Linked DNA regions of Homo sapiens. The gene in region 5 interacts genetically with the main gene of each other region. Each region holds a gene or a part of one and is shown on either strand. Other genes may lie near its edges. The genes, in order: GINS3, POLI, RAD23A, MCM4, ATR, POLA1 and CHEK2.

The links.
Region 1: changes in ATR (region 5) and GINS3 are lethal when combined (synthetic lethality), as found in Homo sapiens cells (one large-scale study listed by BioGRID).
Region 2: changes in ATR (region 5) and POLI are lethal when combined (synthetic lethality), as found in Homo sapiens cells (one large-scale study listed by BioGRID).
Region 3: changes in ATR (region 5) and RAD23A are lethal when combined (synthetic lethality), as found in Homo sapiens cells (one large-scale study listed by BioGRID).
Region 4: changes in ATR (region 5) and MCM4 are lethal when combined (synthetic lethality), as found in Homo sapiens cells (one large-scale study listed by BioGRID).
Region 6: changes in ATR (region 5) and POLA1 are lethal when combined (synthetic lethality), as found in Homo sapiens cells (one large-scale study listed by BioGRID).
Region 7: changes in ATR (region 5) and CHEK2 are lethal when combined (synthetic lethality), as found in Homo sapiens cells (one large-scale study listed by BioGRID).

The regions. Positions count from the first base shown.
Region 1 is NC_000016.10:58,398,971-58,402,470, reverse strand, and holds part of GINS3 (DNA replication complex GINS protein PSF3), read right to left. Parts: intron 1-3,500. UniProt on the Homo sapiens protein: Required for correct functioning of the GINS complex, a complex that plays an essential role in the initiation of DNA replication, and progression of DNA replication forks.
Region 2 is NC_000018.10:54,283,017-54,286,516, reverse strand, and holds part of POLI (DNA polymerase iota isoform a (long)), read right to left. Parts: intron 2,775-3,500; exon of another isoform or gene 2,702-2,774; intron 2,596-2,701; coding exon 2,504-2,595; intron 1-2,503. UniProt on the Homo sapiens protein: Error-prone DNA polymerase specifically involved in DNA repair. Plays an important role in translesion synthesis, where the normal high-fidelity DNA polymerases cannot proceed and DNA synthesis stalls. Favors Hoogsteen base-pairing in the active site.
Region 3 is NC_000019.10:12,948,862-12,951,501, reverse strand, and holds part of RAD23A (UV excision repair protein RAD23 homolog A), read right to left. Parts: intron 2,422-2,640; coding exon 2,343-2,421; intron 2,228-2,342; coding exon 2,094-2,227; intron 1-2,093. UniProt on the Homo sapiens protein: Multiubiquitin chain receptor involved in modulation of proteasomal degradation. Binds to 'Lys-48'-linked polyubiquitin chains in a length-dependent manner and with a lower affinity to 'Lys-63'-linked polyubiquitin chains.
Region 4 is NC_000008.11:47,967,441-47,970,940, reverse strand, and holds part of MCM4 (DNA replication licensing factor MCM4), read right to left. Parts: coding exon 3,456-3,500; intron 1,144-3,455; coding exon 884-1,143; intron 431-883; coding exon 65-430; intron 1-64. UniProt on the Homo sapiens protein: Acts as a component of the MCM2-7 complex (MCM complex) which is the replicative helicase essential for 'once per cell cycle' DNA replication initiation and elongation in eukaryotic cells.
Region 5 is NC_000003.12:142,568,734-142,572,233, reverse strand, and holds part of ATR (serine/threonine-protein kinase ATR), read left to right. Parts: intron 1-3,500. UniProt on the Homo sapiens protein: Serine/threonine protein kinase which activates checkpoint signaling upon genotoxic stresses such as ionizing radiation (IR), ultraviolet light (UV), or DNA replication stalling, thereby acting as a DNA damage sensor.
Region 6 is NC_000023.11:24,700,418-24,703,917, forward strand, and holds part of POLA1 (DNA polymerase alpha catalytic subunit), read left to right. Parts: intron 1-2,833; coding exon 2,834-2,930; intron 2,931-2,963; exon of another isoform or gene 2,964-3,500. UniProt on the Homo sapiens protein: Catalytic subunit of the DNA polymerase alpha complex (also known as the alpha DNA polymerase-primase complex) which plays an essential role in the initiation of DNA synthesis.
Region 7 is NC_000022.11:28,735,321-28,738,820, forward strand, and holds part of CHEK2 (serine/threonine-protein kinase Chk2), read right to left. Parts: exon of another isoform or gene 1,964-3,500; coding exon of another isoform or gene 1,940-1,963; intron 1-1,939. UniProt on the Homo sapiens protein: Serine/threonine-protein kinase which is required for checkpoint-mediated cell cycle arrest, activation of DNA repair and apoptosis in response to the presence of DNA double-strand breaks.

The DNA.
Region 1 (3,500 bases), on a different chromosome or scaffold from region 5:
TCTCACAAGGGAGAACTGTTGCAAAAAGATGGGAGCAGCTTTGTGGGTGTGGAAGCAGAGCTTTTGGCAAACTGCACAGGACTAGACAGACCAATATTGAGTTCAAGGCTGCCAACACCACCAGGACATGAGGGCCTAAGATCTGAGAAAGAAGGGAGGGAAGTAAGCCCCCTATTTGACACCGAATAGCAGAGAAATTAGGCGCCAACTTTAAGATAAACTTAGAAATCAAATGGAAATTCCAGAACTGAAAAATACAATAATTGAACCTAAGAAGTCAATAGATTAAATCAAATTTAACATGTTTACTGGATTGGATTTGGATGAAGACAGGACTGTGAATGAGAAAAGGTCAATAGAAAATAACCAGACTAAAGTATCTAGAGAAAAAACAGAGAAGAGCCTAAGAGATGTATGAAATAAGGTGTAAAAGAAAGACAAAGTTCAACATGCATGTAATTTGATGGGCAGGAGCGATAGATTGAGGCAAAATAAATGTCTGAAGAGATAATAGCTATATATTATCCAAAATTAAAAAAGGTATCAAACCACAGATTCAAGGAACATTATGAATAACAAGTATTAATAGAATAAATACTAATAAAATCACAACTAGGCATATATTACCTGAATTACGAGACCAAAGACAGAGAAAATCCTAAAAACAGCTGTAGATGGGAGTGACGAACACACTGCCTTTAAAGAATGAACATTAAGAGTTAAACCCAACTTTTTGGCAGGGGCCGGTGGCTCACGCCTGTAATCCCAATAAAAGGTGAAGCCGGCTGGGCTTCTGGGTTGGGTGGGGACTTGGAGAACTTTTCTGTCTAGCTAAAGGATTGTAAATGCACCAATCAGTGCTCTGTATCTAGCTAAAGGTTTGTAAACACACCAATCAGCACTCTGTAAAAACAGACCAATCAGCACTCTGTAAAACGGACCAATCAGCACTCTGTAAAATGAACCATCAGCTCTCTGTAAAATGGACCAATCAGCAAGATGTGGGTGGGGCCAAATAAGGGAATAAAAGCAGGCCACCAAGCCACCAGCAGCAACCTGCTTGGGTCCCCTTCCACGCTGTGGAAGCTTTGTTCTTTAGCTCTTCACAGTAAGTCTTGATGGCTGCTCACTCTTTGGATCCCCACTACCTTCATGAGCTGTAACACTCACTGCAAAGGTCTGCAGCTTCACTCCTGAAGCCAGCGAGACCACAAACCCACCAGAAGAAAGAAACTCCGGACACATCTGAACATCTAAAGGAACAAACTCCGGACACACCACCTTTAGGAACTGTAACACTCACCACAAGGGTCTTCGGCTTCATTCTTGAAGTCAGCGAGACCAGCGAGACCAAGAACCCACCTGAAGGAACCAATTCCAGACACACCAATAATTTGGGAGGCCAAGGCGGGCAAATCACATGGGCTCAGGGGTTCGAGACGGGCCTGACCAACATGGTGAAACCCCGTTTCTACTAAAAATACAAAAATTAGCCAGGCATAGTGGTGGGCGCCTGTAATCCTAGCTACTCAGGAGGCTGAGGCAGAAGACTCGCTTGAACACAGGAGGCAGAGGTTACAGTGAGCCGAGATCACACCATTGTACTCCAGCCTGGGCGACAGAGCAAGACTCTGTCTCAAAAAAGAAAAAAAAAAAAAAAAGCCAACTTCTTAACAGAAACTGTGGAAGCCACAAAACAATGGAAATGGAATTTTTTTTTTATGTGCTAAAAGAACATAACTGTGAGTGTAAAATCTTATACCCAGTGAAAATATCCTTTAAAAGTAAAAGTGAAATAAAGGCATTTCCATAGAGAAAGTATGCAGGAAAGATACACAGTAGGCCTGAGGCTGCTATCTTAGCAAGGCCTGCTGCAAGGTTGGCCCTTGGTTGGCATTTGGGAACTTGGATTTCAGGAGGATTCTCACCCGTCCTAGAACTGATGAGAGTGTGCCTGAACTGTCTGTGCAAACAATGTGATTCATGTTGAACACCTGCTTTCCCTCTGGAAGTCTGAATTTTGGTCTGTGCTAGACAGAAAGTGCCACATGAACAGCCTCCAATAAAACCCTGGGGACTGAGTCTTTAACAAGCTTCCCTAGGAGACAGTATTTCAAACATTTTATCAGAATTCAAATTACTGGAGAATTTAAGTGCATCCTGTGTGACTCCACTAGGAGAGGACTCTTGGAAGCTTGTGCCTGGTCTCCTCCAGACTTTACTCCATGCAACCTTTCCCTCTGCTAATTTTGCTTTATATCCTTTTGATGTAATCAATCTTAACCATGAGTGTGACTATATGCTGAGTCCTTTGAGTCCTCTTAGTGAATCATCAAATCTGGGTTGGTCTTGGGCATCTGTGACACAGACAGAAACTGAGACTTATCACCAGAAGATCCAGAATAAGGGAATTCTGAAGAGAGAATGCAAATGATTCCAGAAAGAACTACAGAAATGCAGAAAGGAAAAACAAGTCATGAAAAGAATATATAAGTGGGTATATAATAATAATGTTTTACAGGGGTTTTCAATGAGTCAAACTAGAATACATCACAATAACACAAGAGAAAAAATGGGTTTAAGTGTTCTAAGATTCTAGTCATTTCTGTGAAGTGGTGAAAGTAGTAACTTATATAACATTCTTTTTGGTCAGAAATGATTGTGTAATATATTTAAGGTAGCCACTAAAATAACAGAAGAATATATAACTAAATAAACTAATAAAAAGGTAAATGAATAATAAAATAAATTTGATTAATGCAAAAGGAAGTCAAGAAAGGATAGAAAAAGAAAGCTAAAACAGATGGGACATAAGAAAATAGTAAGAAGGTAAAAATGAATACAAATATGTCAATAATTAAATGTAAATGGATTAAATATAACAATTAAAAATCAGCACACTGCACACAAAACAAAACCCAACTATATGCTGCATAAAAGAGACATACCTTAAATATGAAGACACAGAAAAATTAAAAATAGGATTAAAAAAAGTCATGTAAACATGAATCAAAAGACAGGAGCATTAGAGATAAAGGGAGACGTGACAATAATAAAAGGGTCATTATATCTACCAGAAAATTATTAATATATGTCTAAATTAACAGAAGTAAAAGGATAAACAGGCTAATCCATAATCATAATGAGAGACTTTAACATTTTTTCAATTTTTTTTTTTTTTTCAGAGAGGGGGTCCTGTTCTGTCACCCAGGCTGGAGTGCAGTGGTCTTCTAGGCTCAAGTAATCCTCTTGCCTCAGTCTCCTGAGTAGGTGGGACTATAGGCATGTGCCACCACACTCAGCTAATTTTTCAATTTTTCCTAGAGACAGGGTCTTGCTATGTTGCTTAGGCTGATCTCAAACTCCTGGCCTCAAGTGATCCTCTCACCTCCACCTCCCAAAGTGCTAGGGTTACAGGCAGGAGCCACCATGCCTGGTCCACATGTTTTACAGGATAAAAAAAAAAGTAGAAAAAAAAATTGCAAGGATAGAGAATATCT
Region 2 (3,500 bases), on a different chromosome or scaffold from region 5:
GACATTACTTTTGTTAAAGAGTAATCACTATTACCATTATATGATAGCTTATTAGAGCAATATCTTAAAAGAGCATATACTATATTTAGTATATAATTAATATACAATATGAGTACATGCATTTTTTAGAAGAGTTTCATGCAAATGTCTTGGTTTTGGTGTTGAAACAAAGGTTTTAGTGATATGACAAATTCACTTAAGTAGTACTGGAAAAAATGTCATTAAAGGATAACATTTCCCTTTTTATACACATGGCAATGCATATAAAACCAAATCTCAAACATAAAATGCAAGTATTGCACATTGTTAAACACACTCAACTTGAAGATTCTGATCTGAAAAAAATAGTTCTGGGCCAGGCACGGTGCCTCGTACCTGTAATCCCAACACTTTGGGAAGTTGAGGTGGGAGGATCACTTGAGCCCAGGAGTTCAAGACCAGCCTGGGCAACATAGCAAGACCTCATCTACAAAAATTTAAAAATTAGCTAGGCTTGATGGCAGGTGCCTTCCCAGCTATTCTGGCGGTTGAGGTGGGAGGATTGCTTGAGCCCAGGAGGCTGAGGCTGCAGTGAGCCCTAACTGCACTACTGCCATCCAGCCTGGGTGACAGAGCAAGACCCTATCGCAAAAACATAAAAAATTAAATAGTTCTGTAGTAAATAATTTTTTCTATCTCTTACTGCTTTGTGACAAAACTTCTCGATGGCTGCTTAACTAGGATAAAATACCTTAAATGGTTACTAGTTTAAATATCTTCCAGTTAAACGTGTTATATTAATTATGCAATTCAAAGAGTATGATATGCTAATTAAGACACATTAGAAAAAGGCTGTATCGTAAGCAATCTTAAACTAGTGCCTAGAGGATGGATTAAAAATAATACGGTTTTACATTTCTTACATACCTATAGTATTAATCATAACATACTCTAGAGAAAACAAAACTAATTATACACAAATACACACACACACACACACACACACACACACACACTCCTGTAATTTTTTTTTTTGCAAGTCACTTAGATGGTGTTATAATTCAGTCACTGAAATAAGGGCCCGTGGTGTGGGAGAAAAGGAGCCGGGAAGCAGAGATACAGACAAATGGTTAATTTCACAGGTTTTGTATGTCACAGGTTTAGAGCACCTGGTCTCACTTCTGGGTTGACTCTTCAAATAAGAGAACCTGTAAAACTTATACTTCTTGTGGTTTTTCTATGTGAAGAACTGTCTCCAAAGGTTAGGCATTTCAGGGTAGTCTTCTATTTAGCTGAAGCAAATGACCCAGTTTCACTAGCATACTCGCAGGCCCAGCCTGAGTCATATCACGGGAGGCCAGTCATACAGCCAGCCCCAGCTGCATGCAGCCAACAATGAGCTGCATGGCTCTGCTCAAGACATTTGAGTGCCACATTGCACACGACAGCAAAGTTGGAGGAAATTTCACTTCTTCAGTTTTCTCAGACTTAGAACCAACCAAAAACCATTTTCTCTAAATACAGTTAGTCCTCCTAGAATCATTAGAGAAGCACACCTACTCTAAACTGTTAGAGCCCTGAAACCACAATTTGAGAAATTTCTAACAAGAAGAGGAGAAACAAAGAAATGGGACGAAAACAGATAATACTCATCTGTGGAATATGGAATATTGAGAAATACATGTATAATGACAAGGAGCACCACAAAATTAAATTTCCTTTTCAGTTTATCTTGTACTACTCATATATTTATAACCCCAGTTGATACTCTTTACATACAGATCAGAAACCCTGCACACACCTGCAGTCACTCACCCTACTCACACACAGCGCCAGCTAGCCATTCTTTCCTTCGACTCCATTTTATTTTACAGTCTGAGGCAAAAGAGATACAAGGGTTCTTCTGCTTCTTCCATCACTGTTACTTTAATAATTTCCTATCCTCAACAATCACAAATTTATATAGTTGTTCCTGTATCAGGAGTTTTAGAATTATGACAGTATTATTCCTCTTTGCATTTTTTTCTTCTTAATGAAATGCAAGTAACTATTAGCAGAGGCACAGATAAATGGTTAATTTCACGGGTTTTGTATTTCGCATGTATTTGTATTTAGCATGGTACTAACTTAATGAAATGCAACTAACTATTAGGTTGAGGGCAGAGGCTTTGCAATTGCCACAGGGAAAAATTAAAACTTCTTCTTCTCACCTGAAGACCAGAATAAGTCTAGAAATGTTAGAAATATCCATAAAACCCCTTTAGGTAACTATCTGCAGCTTTAGATCCATAGCATAACCACAGTGTTAACAGAATTAAGACCAATGAATTCAATTTAGGTAAGACCCCCTATTACCATCTTTACAACAGTTTATAAAGCAGAGAAATCCCATGATAAATTATTTTTACATTGTTTAGTCTCCAGATAATCTGTCAGTTCCAAGATGGAACATCAAATATTCTTTCCACATACCGTATATAGAATGAATACATAGGATGACTTGGCAAAATGGATTGAAAATCACCTGTTTAAAAGACTAGCAAGTAGTTCTTCAATCTTATTTTTAGCTTCAACTTCAGATGAACATTTTTTAAATGAATCTTCTTCACTAAAGGACTATCAAAGAAGCATAAATAAGGATTAGCACAAACTCAAATAACTATATCTAATTATTATCAGTGTACAGTCAAATAAATATTCAATACATTCTTCACTAACTTACCTCTTGTCCTTAGTTTGAGCCATTTAGTTCACTTTTATATTAACAGTTTTTTATCTGCAAGCTATTGTACTCACTAGAAAGTTAATATAAAATATTACTGTATTAACAGTTAATATAAAACAGTTAATATAAAATAATTCAAAGTTATGAAAACTCTAAAGCTCTAGTACCAACTCCAAGCTTTATTGTATGATTATGGCAAGAGTTCTTAATCACCTAGGACTTGAATCTAAGTTTATCCTTGGACAAGTTATTTAACCTTTCTAAAGTACGGTATCCTCATCTTGAGAGAGAGAGAATGGAAGGAAGGAAGGAAAGAAGAGAAGTAAGAAGGAATGGACAAACAACAGTACTACCTACCTTGATGCTTTGTTGTGAAGATTAAATGGACTAACATATTTAAAGCACTCAGTAAAGTGCTTGTCCCATAGCAAAAAAATCAGTCAATGTTAACTGGGTGATTATACCTTTCCCATTTGCTAAATCACTGGACTACTCTGAAAACAAGATTTTTAACAGATTAAAATATTTTGCCTCATATATGCATTATAGGCTATTAAAATTAAGTTGCACTGTCTTCAATCATAGTAGCTAACTTAAGATATCAAAATATCAATGCTTAAGATTCCATTTAAGAATACTTATTAATCCAATCTATTAATAATAAATCAGCCTTCTAATAGGAAAGGGATCACATACTAAGCAAACTAGAATAGTAAGAACATGGTACTAAAACTAGAAATCTTTATCTCAAATAATGTGATAACCAGTACTTAATTAAAATAAGTATCATCATGTA
Region 3 (2,640 bases), on a different chromosome or scaffold from region 5:
GCACTCCAGCCTGGGCAACAAGAGCGAAACTCCATCTCAAAAACAAACAAACAACAACAACAAAAAAAACAAAAAACAGCGAACAAGGGAAGGGGGAGGAGGCAGACAATGACACCAGAGAGGAAGGCCCAAGTCAGACCCATTTTCTAGAGCAGGGGGAAGCCACGGTGGTGACAGTTACATGGGAAAAGACGTGGTCTGTGGATCTTTTAGAAAGGTGAACTTGGCCGGGTGTGGTGGCTCACGCCTGTAACCTCAACAATTTGGGAGGCAAGGCAGGAGGGACTGCTTGGGCCCAAGAGTTCAAAACCAGCCTGGGCAACATAGACCCTGTCTCTATTCCCACCTACCAGCCCCCAAACCAAAAAAAGTGAACTCATCTGGGTGTTGGATTTAGGTATCTGGAAGTTCATTTGTTCATTTTTGTTTCTGTTCTTTTTGAGACACTCTCACTCTGTCACCCAGGCTGGAGTGCAGTGGGGCAATCTCGGTTCACTGTAATTTCTGCCTCCTGGGTTCAAGCGATTCTCCTGCCTCCACCTCCTGAGTAGCTGGGACTACAGTGGCCTGCCGCCATGCTCAGCTACTTTTTGTATTTATAGTAGAGACGAGTTTTTGCCATGTTGGCCAGGCTGGTCTAAAACTCCTGACCAAGTGGTCTGCCTGCCTTAGCCTCCCAAAGTGCTGGGATTACAGGCATGAGCCACTGTGCCCTACCTGGGTATCTGGAAGCTCTGATATAACTCTACCATTGTATGCATCTGATCATTTTCACATTAAAGAAGAAAGTGCTTTTCAGTCAGCCAGGTGTGATGGCTCATGCCTGTAATTGCAGCACTTTGGGAGGCCAAGGCGGGCAGATCATTAGGTCAGGAGATTGAGACCATCCTGGCTAACAGGGTGAAATCCCATCTCTACTAAAAATACAAAAAATTAGTCAGGCGTGGTGGCGGGCGCCTGTAGTCCCAGCTACTCGGGCGGGGGCAAAAGAATCGCTTGAACCCGGGAGGCGGAGGTTGCAGTGAGCCGGGATTGCGCCATTGCACTCCAGCCTGGGCGACAGAGCGAGATTTCCTCTCAAAAAAAAAAAGAAAAGAAAGTGCTTTTTAGTCATCTGCCTCATGGTTGAAAAGTGGACTGTGGGACTATGCAGTGGCAGAGGCCCAGGAAGAGGCTACCAGAGAGCTGGAGTGCAGGGAGGGGCTGAGTGGGAAGAGCAGACAGGACAAGGGGTAGACCCCAGCAGATCCCCAGGGCCTGGGGCTGAAGCAACCCCAAGCTAATCCTTGCAGAGATCGGGGAGGACTGGGGAGGTCTGTTCTAAGTCTTAGACGTCTAGTCTAGGGAGCACTTTGATGGAGAGTTAATTAAGCCAGCCATGGAGTGTGGCATTCAGAGAGGCCTGGGCTGGCTACATAGATTTGGGGGTTCCCATACAGACTGAAGGCCCCAGGACACTATGAGGGAGGGCTGAGTGCAGATGAAGAACACGACCGACCAGGAGGAGCTGGCAAGGGACTGAGAAGTGAGAGGAGAAGGGTCAGACAGCAGGGTCCTGAGCCAAGACCGGTAGGCACTTCACCGAGAACCCAGAGGAACCTACTTGCACCCAGGGGGCCACTCCCCCACTCTTCCTGTGAACCTTCAAGGGCAAGATGGAGCCTCACTGAGCAGAGTTGTCCCAGAGCCAACTGGGGCACAGCTGTCCTGGGTGACGTCATGCCACCTTACAGACATTTACGCAGCACCATCTGTATGTGAAGCCAGAGCCCCAGCCCAGGACCCCACCCCGAGGCAGGAGGCAGACACACACACTACCAGCTGCGTGACCCTGGGAATGACAGGCTGCTCTAAGTTTCCGGTGTCTTCTTCTGTGGGAGGTGATGTTGACAGCACCCACACCTTACAAGGTGGTTGGGAAGACTGAGAAACCAGGGGGGTCACCAGGTCACAGGAAGCACAGGGGCGTGGGGGAAGCATGTGCTTAGTCCTGCTTTCCGGACCTAGAACGATTCCTACGTGTTATGGACTCTGGTGCCCACAGGGAAGGGAAATGGTGGCTGCCCTAGCTCCCTCTGCCCTTGGGACCACACCTGTAAAAGCTGAGGGTTCTCCTGGCCCAGCTGCTGGAGCAGGGCGGGCAGCAGCGCAGGGTTCTGCTGAATCACCTGCCGCATGTTCTGGAACTGGGGCTGGTCCCGCAGGAACTCCAGGGGGTTCTCTCCTGCTGGTAGTAGGAAGGGGTGCAGTCAGACACCACGCCGGGCTCCTAGGAGCACTGCGGGGTGGAGTGTAATGTGAGTCAGGTACCTGGAGGGCAGATGCGGCATGTGCACACCCACCTGCTTCCGTGGCCGGCTGCTCCGATACCTGGCTCTCCTGGACAGAACCGTGTTCCGGCTCGGGGCTCCCAGGAATTCCCTGTCAGGGGTCCTGTTTAGTTCTAATGCACAGACCTCCTGCTGCCACCCTCCTCCATGCCCTGGCAGGACACAGATGAGGCCTCGGCCCTGCCCTCCAGAGGCCCACCCATCACTCACATCCAGCCTCCTGTGGGAAGCCTTTAGTGGCTAGAATCACTACCCAAAGGCTTTTCAGGGCAGGTTTTGCCTTCCCAACCGCCCATCAGGGCAGTGACGC
Region 4 (3,500 bases), on a different chromosome or scaffold from region 5:
CCTGTCTTTCAAGGGTCCACATATTTTAAACACGTCCATGTTCACGGTGGAGAAGGCGACTCACCTTTGCAATGGACAGAGTCTGCTGTTCCATGACTTCATGCAATACCGATCTTGTACTTTCATTCATCTTGTCGAACTCATCGATACAGCAGATGCCGTTGTCACTCAGGACAAGAGCACCTGTCTGCAGGACCAGCTGCCTTGTCTCAGGGTCTTTCATTACGTACGCAGTGAGGCCAACTGCACTGGAGCCCTTCCCAGACGTGTACTGGCCCCTGGGGACGAGGTTGTACACGTACTGCAGCAGCTGGGACTTGCTGGTACCAGGGTCGCCACACAGCAAGATGTTGATCTCAGCCCGAAATTTGCCCCTTCCAGTGTGACTAAAATCCTTCCTTGTCCCGCCAAAGAGCTGAAGCAAAATTCCCTAAATAATCAGAGACATGTCTAAACATTCATTTTCTGCACAGTTAACTGAGATGTAGTTTAAACTTTAGAGGTACTTTTCTCTCTTATAAAGAACTACAATTAAGAAATCACAGGAAGGTATAAAAAGGCTCGTGAAAGTGCTTGATATGCTTTAAGTTATCACTGACCAGTTCATCAGCACCTATCATTACACCAGAATGGTGGCCATGCAAGTCCCTATTCTGACACTGTGTGGCCTCTTCTGTTTAGAAACCTAAGTTTAGACCAGAGATGAGGATAGACAATGCTATGATTCTTCTCAACCAATGGCAAGTCAGGTTGCCAGCACTTGCTCTAACAGGCCACAACTCTGTCCTTTATGGCGGATGGCTCGAGTGGCGGAGTGGATGTTTATACTATTTGATCCCAAAGAATTGTAAATCCCAACCCCTAGTTTAAAATCCACTGTTACCTTCTTTATATCTTCATGTTCATAAATGCTTGGAGCCAAGGCTGAAGCAAGCCTCTCATAAATGTCTGGTTTCCTGGAAAGTTCCTTAAGCAATTCCACACGTTTCTCTGAAAAAAGTTTCTGTTCTGCTTCTTCATCAAGGCCATGCAGACGTTTTGCATCCGTTTTCCGATAATGAATGACATCAATGTGGGTTTTGTAGACAGACTTCACATTACTCACTCTTGGATTGACTCGAATAGGCACAGCTCGATAGATGCCTGAGGGCACAACCAGGAGATGCACTTTTACCTTCCCATATCTTCCTCCGAGTGGCTCAGCAACCAGCGTAGGCAACAGGTGCACTTCAGAGCGAGGCACCACGTCGGGCTGGCCCTGGAAAGGGTGAGCTCCACCGTCTCTTAAATGACCCTCCCAAGCCCAGGACTCAGGCCCACATTGCAAAGCTCCCGCTTGCTATGAGCAAGCAGGGAAATAGCAGCAGGAAACGGACAAGCTCGAAAGAACCAAGGTGGCTCATGTCTGTAATCCTAGCACTTTGGGAGGCTGAGGCAGGCGGATCACCTGAGGTTGGGAGTTCGAGACCACCCTAATCAACAAGGAGAACCCTGTCTCTACTAAAAATACAAAAATTAGCCGGGCGTGGTGGCACATGCCTGTAATCCCAGCTACTCGGGAGGCTGAGGCAGGAGAATGGCTTGAACCTGGGAGGCGGAGGTTGCGGTGAGCCAAGATGGTGCCATTGGACTCCAGCCTGGGTGACGAGAGCAAAACTCCGTCTCAAAAACAAAACAAAACAAAATGAAACAAAACAAAACAAAACAAAACAAAAGAGAAAGAACCCAGGTTTCTGCAAATGATAGACCCGAGGACGTGTTCACCTGGGCCCACTAGTCAGCAGTGCTCCAGGGCAACTGTAGCTACGTGAGCATGCCCACGGGCACAGTCACCCTGAGGGTGAAATGGAGCTGCTGTGCTTCTAGCTCAATGCTGGGTTCGTGGTTGTTTTTAATAAGCAGTATTTTTACTTCCCTAAGTTGAGTGTACAGAATCTGCCTAGCACTTACTTGACTGCAACAAAATGCTAAAATCCTCCAGTCATTAAAACTAGACTAGGTCCCCCCAACCTACCCACCACCCCCGACAAAAGCATGCAAATCATGCATTCTTCTGGAAGCCAGGCTCCTCACATACAGAGGTCTGATCTGATGTTCGTCTTTTCTGGATTTCAAACCAGAAGGCTTTAACTCCAGGCTGATTCCTGCAGCTTTTGGAGAAAGCCTGGCCTTTCCCCGTTACAGCTATCTCAACGCAATGGCACAGAGCACTGTCCTTGTTTATTCAGTGGGTCAGTGTAATTCTTGTTTAACACAACAAACCAGTTTACACACATTCTTAGAATACACACTATTCTTCACTCCAATATAGGCTAGGGATGGAAGATTATGTTTAAAGTGGCCCGGAATGATTTATCTCACAGAGCAGCATTGATACTTATTTCACATCTACACAGCACTTTCCACAGCCCCTTGGCCCCAAACACTCTCACACATGTATCATCACATTAACTCCACTTTGTAGGTGAGGAAACAAAAATATTGGACTAAATACTTTATCAAAGGTTTCAGGGTAGCAGGACTGGAAATGCGCACGTCACTCACTAAAAACTACGCATTCTTTCAAATTCTCCATGACTTCAAGTACTTTTACGACGGAAGATTGCCAGTGATAACTGCGGGACTTCACACTGGGGAAGAAACAGGGTGAGCACTGCCTCACTGAAGACAAGAGCCGATGCGTGGTGTGCCCCAGGCCCTCCGCTCAGGAGCAGATTCAGGCACTCCGCGACCGTCGCCACCTTGCCCATCAATGAAGAACCGTGCTGCCATCAACACTCCCTTGCCCCCAACCAAAATCCATTGTGACTCTACAGCATCAAAAGGAGGACTGCCACACTCATATGGTGCTGTGCAAAGAGCACTCTTGTGGCAGCAAGAGAAGGAGACCTGGGTCCTGGGTTCTGATTTACCGTGGCATCTGAGCTACTGCTGTCTATGCATCCCTGAACCTCAGCTTCTACACATGGAAACAAGTCACTGACTCATTTTTCTCTGTAACAAACAAATGTTAACCCTTGGCTATACATTTGGGAAATTAAGTAAAAATTACTTAAAACTCCAGCATTGGTGAGTAATACTTCTCTGAGCTGATGGCATAACTCAAAACTTTACCCATACAAGCCTGTCTGAGGCTGCTCTCTCATGATGCCAACAGTACTGACTTGAGACACACACAGCTCCAGGATACTGAGGTATCAAGAGGCGAGTGACCACACGAACCATGAGCTCCAACATTCAAGTTTGGGAAGAACTGAACAATTTCATACTGCTGGGCCATGGTACTCAGTTAAAAAGGTGGCAGATAAAGCAGGGATATACCCCACAGTCTCAAAGACAAGCAGTGACAACTGGAGGTAGAACTGGACCTGTGACCAAGTCCAATGACTCACTAAAGCACAGCATTGAAAGCAAGCCAGACATGCTCAAGTGCTGGTGCAAACCTACACTCTTACCTGTAACATTCACTCTGTCCCCAGGCTGGACCTTGTCAACGAGAT
Region 5 (3,500 bases):
GCCGGGCGTGGTGGCACGTGCCTGTAGTCCCAGCTACTCGGGAGGCTGAGGCAGGAGAATCACTTGAAGCTGCGAGGCGGAGGTTGCAGTGAGCCGAGATCACACCACTGCGCTCCAGCCTGGGCGACAGAGCGAGACTCCGTCTCAAAAGAAAAAAAAAAGAAAAAGGGCCGGGTGCGGTGGCTCACGCCTGTAATCTCAGCACTTTGGGAGGCTGAGGCGGGCGGATTACCTGAGGTCAGGAGTTCGAGCCAGCCTGGCCAACATGGTGAAACCCCGTCTCTACTAAAAATACAAAAATTAGCTGGGTGTGGTGGCACACGCCTGTAATCCTAGCTACTTGGGAGGCTGAGGCAGGAGAATTGCTTGAGCCCGGGTGGCGGAGGTTGCAGTGAGCCAAGATCGTGCCACTAACTGCACTTCACCCTGGCCGACAGAGCGAGACTCTGTATCAGAAAAAGAAAAAAATTCACTCTTTTTCTTTTACCACTATTTGAGATAATAAGTGGGGAAAATGTATGAACATTTTACAGTGCTATATAGAAATAAATTGTGACATATATGAAATATATGCTATTATTTATAAGTAACTGTCTTACTACACCCTAAGTTGTTTTGTCAGAAGTGATGGACTTTGCTAATCACTCACACATAACCCACTGTGAATCCTCTAGGTAGAGTTAATCATTCCCTGCTTTGGGTGTACATGATACTTGCTTTTGATTATTTATTTATTTATTTATTTATTTATTTATTTATTTATTTATTGAGACTGAGTCTCGCTCTGTCGCCCAGGCTGGAGTACAGTGGCGCGATCTCGACTCACTGCAATCTCCGCCTCCCAGATTCAAGCGATTCTCCTGCCTCAGCCTCCTGAGCAGCTGGGACTACAGGCGCCCGCCACCACACCCAGCTGATTTTTGTGTTTTCAGCAGAGATGGGGTTTCACCATGTTAGCCGGGATGGTTTAGATCTACTGACCTCATGATCCGCCTGCCTTAGCCTCCCAAAATGCTCGTATTACAGGCGTGAGCCACCATGCCCGGCCGCTTTTGATTATTTAAGTGCATTCCTCTCCTCTCCCCAGCAACTATTCTGAGTTCTTTGAAGCAGAGGATCTTGTTTTACTTGCCTTTTGAATTTATTAAATTATTTGCGTCTGTACCCATCCATTCTTTCTATGTTTATGAAAGAGTTACCCTCCTGTCCAAGGATTGTCTTTTTACTTATATCTGGTTCCAAGAAGAGGAGTCACATCTCAAGAATTGGTTGCTTAGGTCTTTCCATTATAAGGGAGAAACAAAACAAAGCCCTCTTGATCTCATACAGTTCTTTAGTTATCACCAACTCTACTTCTCTTCATTTCATGATCAAGCTTTGGAAAGAACCCGCTATTCTCAGTATTCACATTTCATTAGATTTTCAGCCCCTTGCAATCTGGCTTCTCTCTTTACTGCTACAGGAAAATTTTAAAAGTCCAAAAGGCATACAAATACCTAAACATAAGAACTAAAACTATGAAACTCTTAGAAGTGAACATAGAGGGGGCCGGGCATGGTGGCTCACACCTATAATCCCAGCACTTTGGGAGGCCAAGATGGGTGGATCACCTGAGGTCAGGAGTTCCAGACTAGCCTGACCAACATGGAGAAACCCTGTCTCTACTAAAAATATACAAAATTAGCCAGGCGTGGTGGTACATGCTTGTAATCGCAGCTACTCAGGAGGCTGAGGCAGGAGAATCGCTTGAACCCAGGAGGCGGAGGTTGCGGTGAGCTGAGATCGCGCCATTGCACTCCAGCCTGGGCAACAAGAGTGAAACTCTGTCTCAAAAAGTAAATAAATAAATAAAAATAAGGGAACATAGAGGGAAAACATTATGACACTGGATTTGGCAATGATTTCTTTGATATGACACAAAGCACAGGCAGCAAAATAAACAGATAAATTGGAATTCATCAAAATTAAAAACTTTGTGCATCAAAGGGCAGTATCAATAGAGTGAAAAGGCAACCCATGGAACTGGAGAAAATATTTGCAAATCATATGTCTGATAAGGAGTTTAATATCTAGAATATATTAAGAACTCCTACAGCTTAACAACAAATATAACCTGATGAAAAACAGAAAAAGAACTTGAATAGACATTTCTCCAAAGAAGATATACAAATGGACAAATAAGCACATGAGAAGATGCTCACAATTACTAATCATTAGGGAGATGCAAATCAAAACCACAGGATACTGTTTCACACCCATTATGATAGCTATTAATAAAAAAACAGTTGGGGCTGGGCATGTTGGCTGATGCCTGTAATCCCAGCACTTTGGGAGGCTGAGGCAGGCGGATCACGAGGTCAGGAGATTGAGACCATCCTGGCCAACATGGTAAAACCCCATCTCTACTAAAATACAAAAAATTAGCCAGGCATGGTGGTGCATGCCTGTAGTACCAGCTACTTGAGAGGCTGAGGCAGGAGAATTGCTTGAACCCGGGAGACAGAGGTTGCAGTGAGTTGAGATCATGCCACTGCACTCCAGCCTGGTGACAGAGCAAGACTCTGTCTCAAAAAAAACCAAAAAACAAAAAAAATCCCACAAAAAAAAAACACAGTTGGGCATGGTGACTCATGCCTACAATCCCAGCACTTTGGGAGGTCAAAGCAGGCAGATCGCTTGAGCCCAGGAGATTGAGACCAGCCTGGGCAACGTGGTGAAACCCTGTCTCTACAAAAAATACAAAAAATTAGCTGGGTGTGGTGACATGCACCTGTGGTGCCAGCTACTCAGGAGGCTGAGGTGGGAGGATCTCCTGAGGCTGGGAGGTTGAGGCTGCAGTGAGTTATGGGTGCACCACTGCACAGTAACCTGGGCAACAGGGTTAGACCCTGTCGCCAAAAGGGGAAAATAAAATAATAATAAAAAAACACCCAGAAAATAACGTGTGTTGGTGAAGATGTGGAGAAATTGGAACCCTTGTCCACTGCAGGTGGGAGTGTACAATGGTACAGCCACTGTGGAAAAGGGTATTAGCGTTCCACCAAAAATTTAGTTTTTATGTGCTTCAGAAGGGAGGAAGTGAATGCTAATTGGTCCATAGGCAGTCATGGGTGGGCCTGGAAAAAGCACCCTAAGTTCTCGCTGTGGTCCGTGTAACTGGCAGCCAGGCTTCCAGGCTTCAAGCTGTTCCTGGCTTGAAGGTGGGTCTTCACTGGGGACCCACCCCTTTCCTCCCAGGAGCCTACTTCCTGCTGCCATCAACCTGCCACCCACTACACCGAGGCTGTTCGTGCCGAGGGGCGCCTGCAGGCCCATATTGAGCTGCCCTCAGCCTACCGCTTGGCCTGCCCAAAGTCCAGAGGGAGATGAGGCAGCAGGGGGCTGGTGTGTCAGTGCCGTCCTGAGCACATGCACACGCGGCCTGGTCCTGACAACACCTGGGCTCCCCCACAACTTTGCTCCGAAATTGGTGTGGGTGCCGGGAGCGGGGAGAGGCCAGG
Region 6 (3,500 bases), on a different chromosome or scaffold from region 5:
AATATTTGCCATTTGTCACCATTTGTTCAAGTTAAGTGAGGCAACCAGATCATAAAAGGTTGCTAAAAGGATTTCAGTAAAACAGGAATAAAGCATTTTTTTTGTTTTTGAGATGGAGTCTCTCTCTGTTGCCCAGGCCGGAGTGCAATGGCACGATCTTGGTTCACTGCAGCTTCCACCTCCCAGGTTCAAGCGATTCTCCTGCTTCAGCTTCCCGAGTAGCTGGGATTACAGGCGCCCACCACCACGCCTGGCTAATTTTTGTATTTTTAGTAGAGACGGGCTTTCACCATGTTGGTCAGGCTGGTCTTGAACTCTTGACTTCAAATGGTCCACCCGCCTCGGCCTCCCAAAGTGCTGGGATTACAGGCGTGAACCACCACACTGAGCCCAGGACTAAAACATTTTTAATGTAGGTACTTGTATAAAGGAGTTCCATGGGGCATTTCAGATGTTGGCACAATGTGGCTGATTTCCCTTTAACACTGTGATGTTAATTGTATGGCTCTAAGAGTTCATGCTGAGCAGTAGTAATGTTGTTTTTAAAGATTGAGTCGAAATGACTTTTTACTCAAAATGATTTTTAAAAATAGTTTTCTGGTATCTCCTTGATAATATAGTGAATCACTTAAGTAAGAGACAAAGTCTGTCTTCAACCAACAAAAATAATAACGCCAGTTCCCCTCCCACCCCCAAAAAAGAAAGTTGGTCAGTATAGTAATATTAATTGGACTATTTTGCATCTCTTTTGTTAAAAGCTTAATTTGGTAAGGCAGGTTGTTTCTGTTACTAGATGGTTAAAGACCAAATCAGTATTTGCCAGTGATTCCTGTAGAGTAGGCTAAAAAGGAGGTGAAAACTCAAATCCCGTAATTATTATAAGCCTTATAGGTGTGGCAGAAATCCAGTCAGCTCTGGCCACTGGATTCCAAAAGCTCTGTCCAAGTTTTTTCCTAGGGTATTAACTCTTCAGATGGAGTTGTTTCTCCCGTACTCCATTTGAGAAAGGTAGAACTCTTTTTTTTTTTTTTTTTTGAGGTGGAGTTTTGCTCTTGTTGCTCAGGCTGGAGTGCGATGGCATGATCTTGGCTCACTGCAACCTCAGCTTCCCAGGTTCAAGCGATTGTCCTGCTTCAGCCTCCCAAGTAGCTGGGATTACAGGTGTCTGCCACCACGCCTGGCTAATTTTTATAATTTTAGTAGAGACGGGGTTTCACCATGTCGGTCAGGCTGGCCTGGAACTCCTGACTTCAGGTGATCCACCTGCCTTGGCCTCCCAAAGTGCTGGGATTACAGGCGTGAGCCACCACACCCGGCTGAGGTAGAACTCTTGAGAGAATGGGAGAATTTTTTTTTTTTTTAATCTCGCTCTCTCTCCCAGGCTGGAGTGCAGTGGTGTGTTCTTGGCTCACTGCAACCTCCACCTCCCAGGTTCAAGCGATTCTCCTGCTTCAGCCTCCTGAGTAGCTGGGATTACAGGCGCCCCCCACCATGCCCAGCTAATTTTTGTATTTTTAGTAGAGATGGGGTTTCACCACGTTGGCCAGGCTGGTCTTGAACTCCTCACCTCAAGTAATCTGCTCACCTTGGCCTCCCAAAGTGCTGGGATTACAGGCGTGAGCCACTGCACCTGGCCGAGAATCAGGTACTTTTTTTTTTTTTGAGATGGAGACTCGGTCTCTTACCCAGGCTGGAGTGCAGTGCATGATCTCGGCTCACTGCATCACTGCAACCTCCACCTCCCGGGTTCAAGTGATTCTCCTGCCTCAGCCTCCTGAGTAGCTGGGACTGCAGGCATATGCCACCACGCCTGGCTAATTTTTGTATTTTTAGTAGAGATGGGGTTTCACTATGTTGGCCAGGCTGGCCTCAAACTCCTGACCTCAGGTGATCCACCCACCTGGGCCTCCCAAAGTGCTGGGATTACAGGCGTGAGCCACTGTGCCCAGCATTTGTTAATTTTTAATAAGTATCTATGAGATTTTGCAAACCAGCCCACCAGAGTCTCATCTGGAAAGTCACTGGCCTTTCCCCATGGGCAGCTGCAGCAGTGGTGTGTATCTTTCATTTGTTGCTTTAGCTGTGCAGAGGTTGTCTGCTTTACTCATACCAGTAGCTCATAGTGTTCTGACCCTCTTGCAGTCAGGCAGCCAATATGATTGGAGGACCTGCCACTCTCTGGACTTGCCTTTCAAATAGCTCAGCGTTTAAGTCCTTGTGTGGTTTCAAGACCTGAGGATGGTGGAGTTTCAGTGGTAATACAAACAGGGTCACTCAAAAACTATTTCTGGTTTGCCTGTAGAATATGCAATATGTTTGTTTTGCTAATTTTTGGAAGGGGATGGATGAGGGAGATTTTCCTTCTGAATTGTATTTGGTTGATTGAACAGGCATGAAAATTATCGTCTATTTGCAGAGCGTACATCAGCTAGTGGAGAGGGAAGTGGCATGCCTTACAGGTTTGCTAAGTGTAGGAGAAACCAGTCTAGAAATTACAAGTGAATAATTCCCCAAAGCAGCTAATGAAGAATTGGCTATAATTCAGTTTGTTTTTTATGAAATAGATGAGTAATTGATGGTATGACAAGTGTATTATGCTAATGGAATCATTTAATATCTTATGTTAACACCCACCTAAAAGGAATACTAAGTTAATTGATGTCTATTTAAGGAAAACCCTGTAGTGGTGTTGAATGTCAGAACTCATGATTTGGTTGCAGCTACTCCTTCAGTCTGCCATTCCAGTTTCAATTTGACAATTTTTTCATCAGAATTATTTAACACTTTGACTCCTCTATTTGAAGCTTTTTTCCTGAAACTTGTATAATGGTAGGTCGAGGACTTCACAGGTGTTTATGAAGAAGTTGATGAAGAACAGTATTCGAAGCTGGTTCAGGCACGCCAGGATGATGACTGGATTGTGGATGATGGTAGGTGGGGCGGAGGTGGGGGCGGGGATGTTGCTTCCTAGGCACTGTGTTAGTTGCTTCTTGTAGATTCTCACTCATGTGGTGGAGTTGCTGCTTTGCCTGGGCAAATGTAAGGCACTGTTAGGATCTTACCTTTGGTTTGGATTTTCCTTTAATTATTTGAGGATGAGGAAGCAGAATAGCAGGACATTTATTTGGGGATATTTTGGAGAATCTAGGCACATACCTCAGGATGTAGTATAAATCCTCCAGGTAATGGCTGTGTAAGAATTGGGAGGAGCCCCTTGTCTGTGGGGCCAATGCACAGCGCTTGGAATTAAGGAATGCAGGTTCGGGATCCATCATTCCTACTTTCCAATTCTATGACCTTGGACAAGTCACTTAATCTCTCTGCGCCTTAGAGTCTTCATCTGTAATATGGGGATGAGAAAACTACCTTCTCCCAGAGTTGTGAGGTGTATATGAGGTTCTAGGTATGAAAATTAACTTGGTCAGTAGAAAGCACCATACAAAGGCTGGTCCTAATGTCCTGTGCCCCTTCTGAAAGCTCATTGGTTCTCACTTGTAGGG
Region 7 (3,500 bases), on a different chromosome or scaffold from region 5:
GCTTGAGCCCGGGAGGCAGAGGTTGCAGTGAACCAAGATTGCACCACTGCACTCCAGCCTGGGCAACAGTGCAAGACTCCGTTTCAAAAAAAAAAACTCATATATACAGTCCTCAATTTAACAATGCTTCTATTTAACAATGTTTAGACTTTCTGTGAAAGCAATCAGTAGACACTTACTTCTCCAAGTCCTCACATAACCATTCTGGTTTTCACCTTCAGTACAGTATTCAAGTAATTACATGAGATATTTAACACCTTATTATAAAATAGGCCAGGTGGCCAGGTGCAGTGGCTCACACCTATAATCCCAGAACTCTGGGGGGTCAAGGCAGGTAGATCACCTGAGATCAGGAGTTCAAGACCAGCCTGGCCAACACAGTCAAACCCCGTGTCCACTAAAAATACAAAAATTAGCCGGGTGTGGTGGCAGGCGCCTGTAGTTCCAGCTACTCAGGAGGCTGAAGCAGGAGAATTGCTCGAGCCCAGGAGGCAGAGGTTGCACTGAGCTGAGATCGCGCCACTGCACTCCAGCCTGGGTGACAGGAGTGAAACCCTGTCTCAAAAAAATTAATTAATTAAATAAATAAAATTTTAAAATAAAATAAAATAGGCCAGGTGCAGTGACTCACAACTGTAAACCCAATATTTCGGGTGGTGGAGGTAGGAGGATTGCTTGAGGGCAGGTGTTTGAGACCCCACCTCTACAAAAAATAATAACAATAATCTTTGTGTTAGATAATTTTGCCCAACTGTACCCTGACATAAGTGTTCTGAGCATGTTTAAAGGAGGCTAGGCTAAACTATGACGTTTGGTATCTTAGGTGTATTAAATGTAATTTCAATTTAACAATATTTTCAACTTAGAATGGTTTTATTTAGACATAATGCCATTGAAAGTTGAGGAGCATCTGTGTACTTTGGAAAGCAAAAGAAGACAAAAAATCAGGTGGCTTGATATAAAAGTCAAAAAGAAATTGTACAATAACCTGCTGCATTACTCCAAAGGGTCCATTTACATAAAATGTCACTGGTACCCCTTTTCCCCCAGGCTTGCTCCTAAAGTGAAACACACCTGTTCGTTCAATCTATATTCCCTGACACCTAAGGACCCAGTGACTTAATGAGGCAGAACACAAAGGAAGACAGCTCTTAACAACTCCACCTATCCCTTTGTGATGCTAAATAACCATAGGGCTTATCTTTTCAGCATCCTAAATGGCCTTCCGGCCTTGATGTAATCTTGCAGGAACCATTCTTTTATAAACTGGAGACCGTAACAGAGGCTTCCACCCTTGTCTTAGAATTAACCTGATAGACAGTTAGACTGTCATAACAGGCTGGGTGCAGTGGCTCATACCTGTAATCCCAGCACTTTGGGAGGCCAAGGCAAGAGGACCACTTGAGGCCACGAGTTCAATACCAGCCTGGCCAACATAGTGGGACCCCCCCCGCCCCCCGTACAAAAAATAAGAAAATTAGACATGATGGCATGCAGCTGTGGGCTCAGCTACTCAGGAAGGTGAGGTGGGAGGATCACTTGAGCCCAGGAGTTGAAGGCTGCAGTGAGCTATGATCATACCACTTACATACCAGCCTGGGTGGCAGAGTGAGACCCTATCTCCAAAGAACAGAAAACAAACCAAGACTCTGATAACAGAACCACCAGTAAAATCAAAGTAACATCCACTGCTGACCTAATCGGATTAACAAAAAAAAGGGAGGGAGAGGAGGGCATTCTCTTCCTCCCCAAACTCAGGCTACTACTCTAGGAGAACATAGGAAACAACACTATAGTAGTCCCCACCATCAGAGGGGGATAAGATCCAAGACCCCCCAGTGGATGCCTGAAACCTCGCATAGTACAGAACCCTATATAAATTATGCACAACTTTCTTTTTCCTTCTTCACAATTTCACAAATAGAAGATTAGTTCTTACCATAGACGTTAGCAGCCTCAGCATACAAATTTTTTTATTTCCATATTAAATTGAGATCTTTCACCTTTTCAGTAAAAGGAAACACTTTACAGCTTCTCTTTACAATATCCAAATTGCCAGCATCTTTTGCTTTGGGGCCATTATTAAATATAAGGGTGACATGAACACAAGCACTGCAAAACCATGTAATTTAAGACTTATGAACTGATTATTTCTTTTTTTTTTTTTTTTTGAAACGGAGTCTCAGTCACCCAGGCTGGAGTGCAGTGGCACAATTTTGGCTCATTGCAACCTCCACCTCCTGGGTTCAAGCAATTCTCCTGCTTCAGCCTTCCAAGTAGTTGGGATTACAGGCGCACACCACCATGCCCGGCTAATTTGTATATTTTTTTTAGTAGAGACAGGGTTTTCACCGTATTGGCCAGCCTGGTCTCAAACTGCAGACCTCAGGTGATCCTCAGGTCCACCTCAGCCTCCCAAACTGCTAGGATTACAGGCCTGAGCCACCATGCCCAGCCATGAATTGACTATTTCTTATGAATTTTCCACTTAATAGTTTCAGATCGCAGCTGACCATTGGTAAGTGAAACTACTACCGCTGATAAGGAGGGACTAAGATACCCACACTGATTGTATTTACACAGCTTTCAAGATACAAAGGTTCTGCCAGGTGTGGTGGTTCATGTCTGTAATCCCAGCACTTTGGGAGGCCAACGCAGGTAGATTGCTTGAGCCCAGGAATTCAAGACCAGCCTGGGCACCATGGTGAAATCCAGTATCTACAGAAAATACAAAAAATTAGCAGGGCATGGTGGTGTGCACCTGTAGTCCCAGCTACTTGGGAAGCTGAGGTGGGAGGATCACTTGAGTCCAGGAGGTTGAGGCTGCAGTGAGCCGTGATCGAGCCTGCACTCCAGCCTGGGTGACAGAGCGAGACCCTGTCTCAAGGAAAATAAAAAAGATACAAAGGTTCTGATGAGTTTTCTTTAAAACATACCAGGAAGGCAATGCCAAAACTGAGTATGCCACACCAGGGACTGCTGGTCTAATACTACCTGAGCCAGGCTGAGTCTTCCCCACAGCTTTTTAAGCAAGACAGGACAACTGGAGAAAATGTGTCAACAAGTTACTATGAGAGATTAGAGGCAAGCGGATCTGGAGTCAGACACTTGAGTGAAACTGTGCATGACTTTAGGTAGATCACAACTTCTCTAAACCTGTTTTCTCATCTGAAAATAAGTAGACAGACCATGAGGATTAAGTGAAGTGACGCATGTAATACTCCCCCCACCCACCCATGCTTGCTATCTGGGAGCTATTGCTATTGGAAAGCCATGCAGAGAAGTGAGTGAAAAACCAAAGTGAGGGCAGCAAAACTCCAGGACTGTAGACAGAAATCCAGTCCCAAAACCTATAAAACTACTAGAAGAAAACACTGGGGAAGTGCTCCAGGACACTCATCTTGGGCACAGGTTTTTTGGGCACAGGGTTTTTACGTAAGACCTCAAAAGCACAGGCAACTAAAGCAAAAACAGACAACTGGGATTTCATCAAGCTAAAA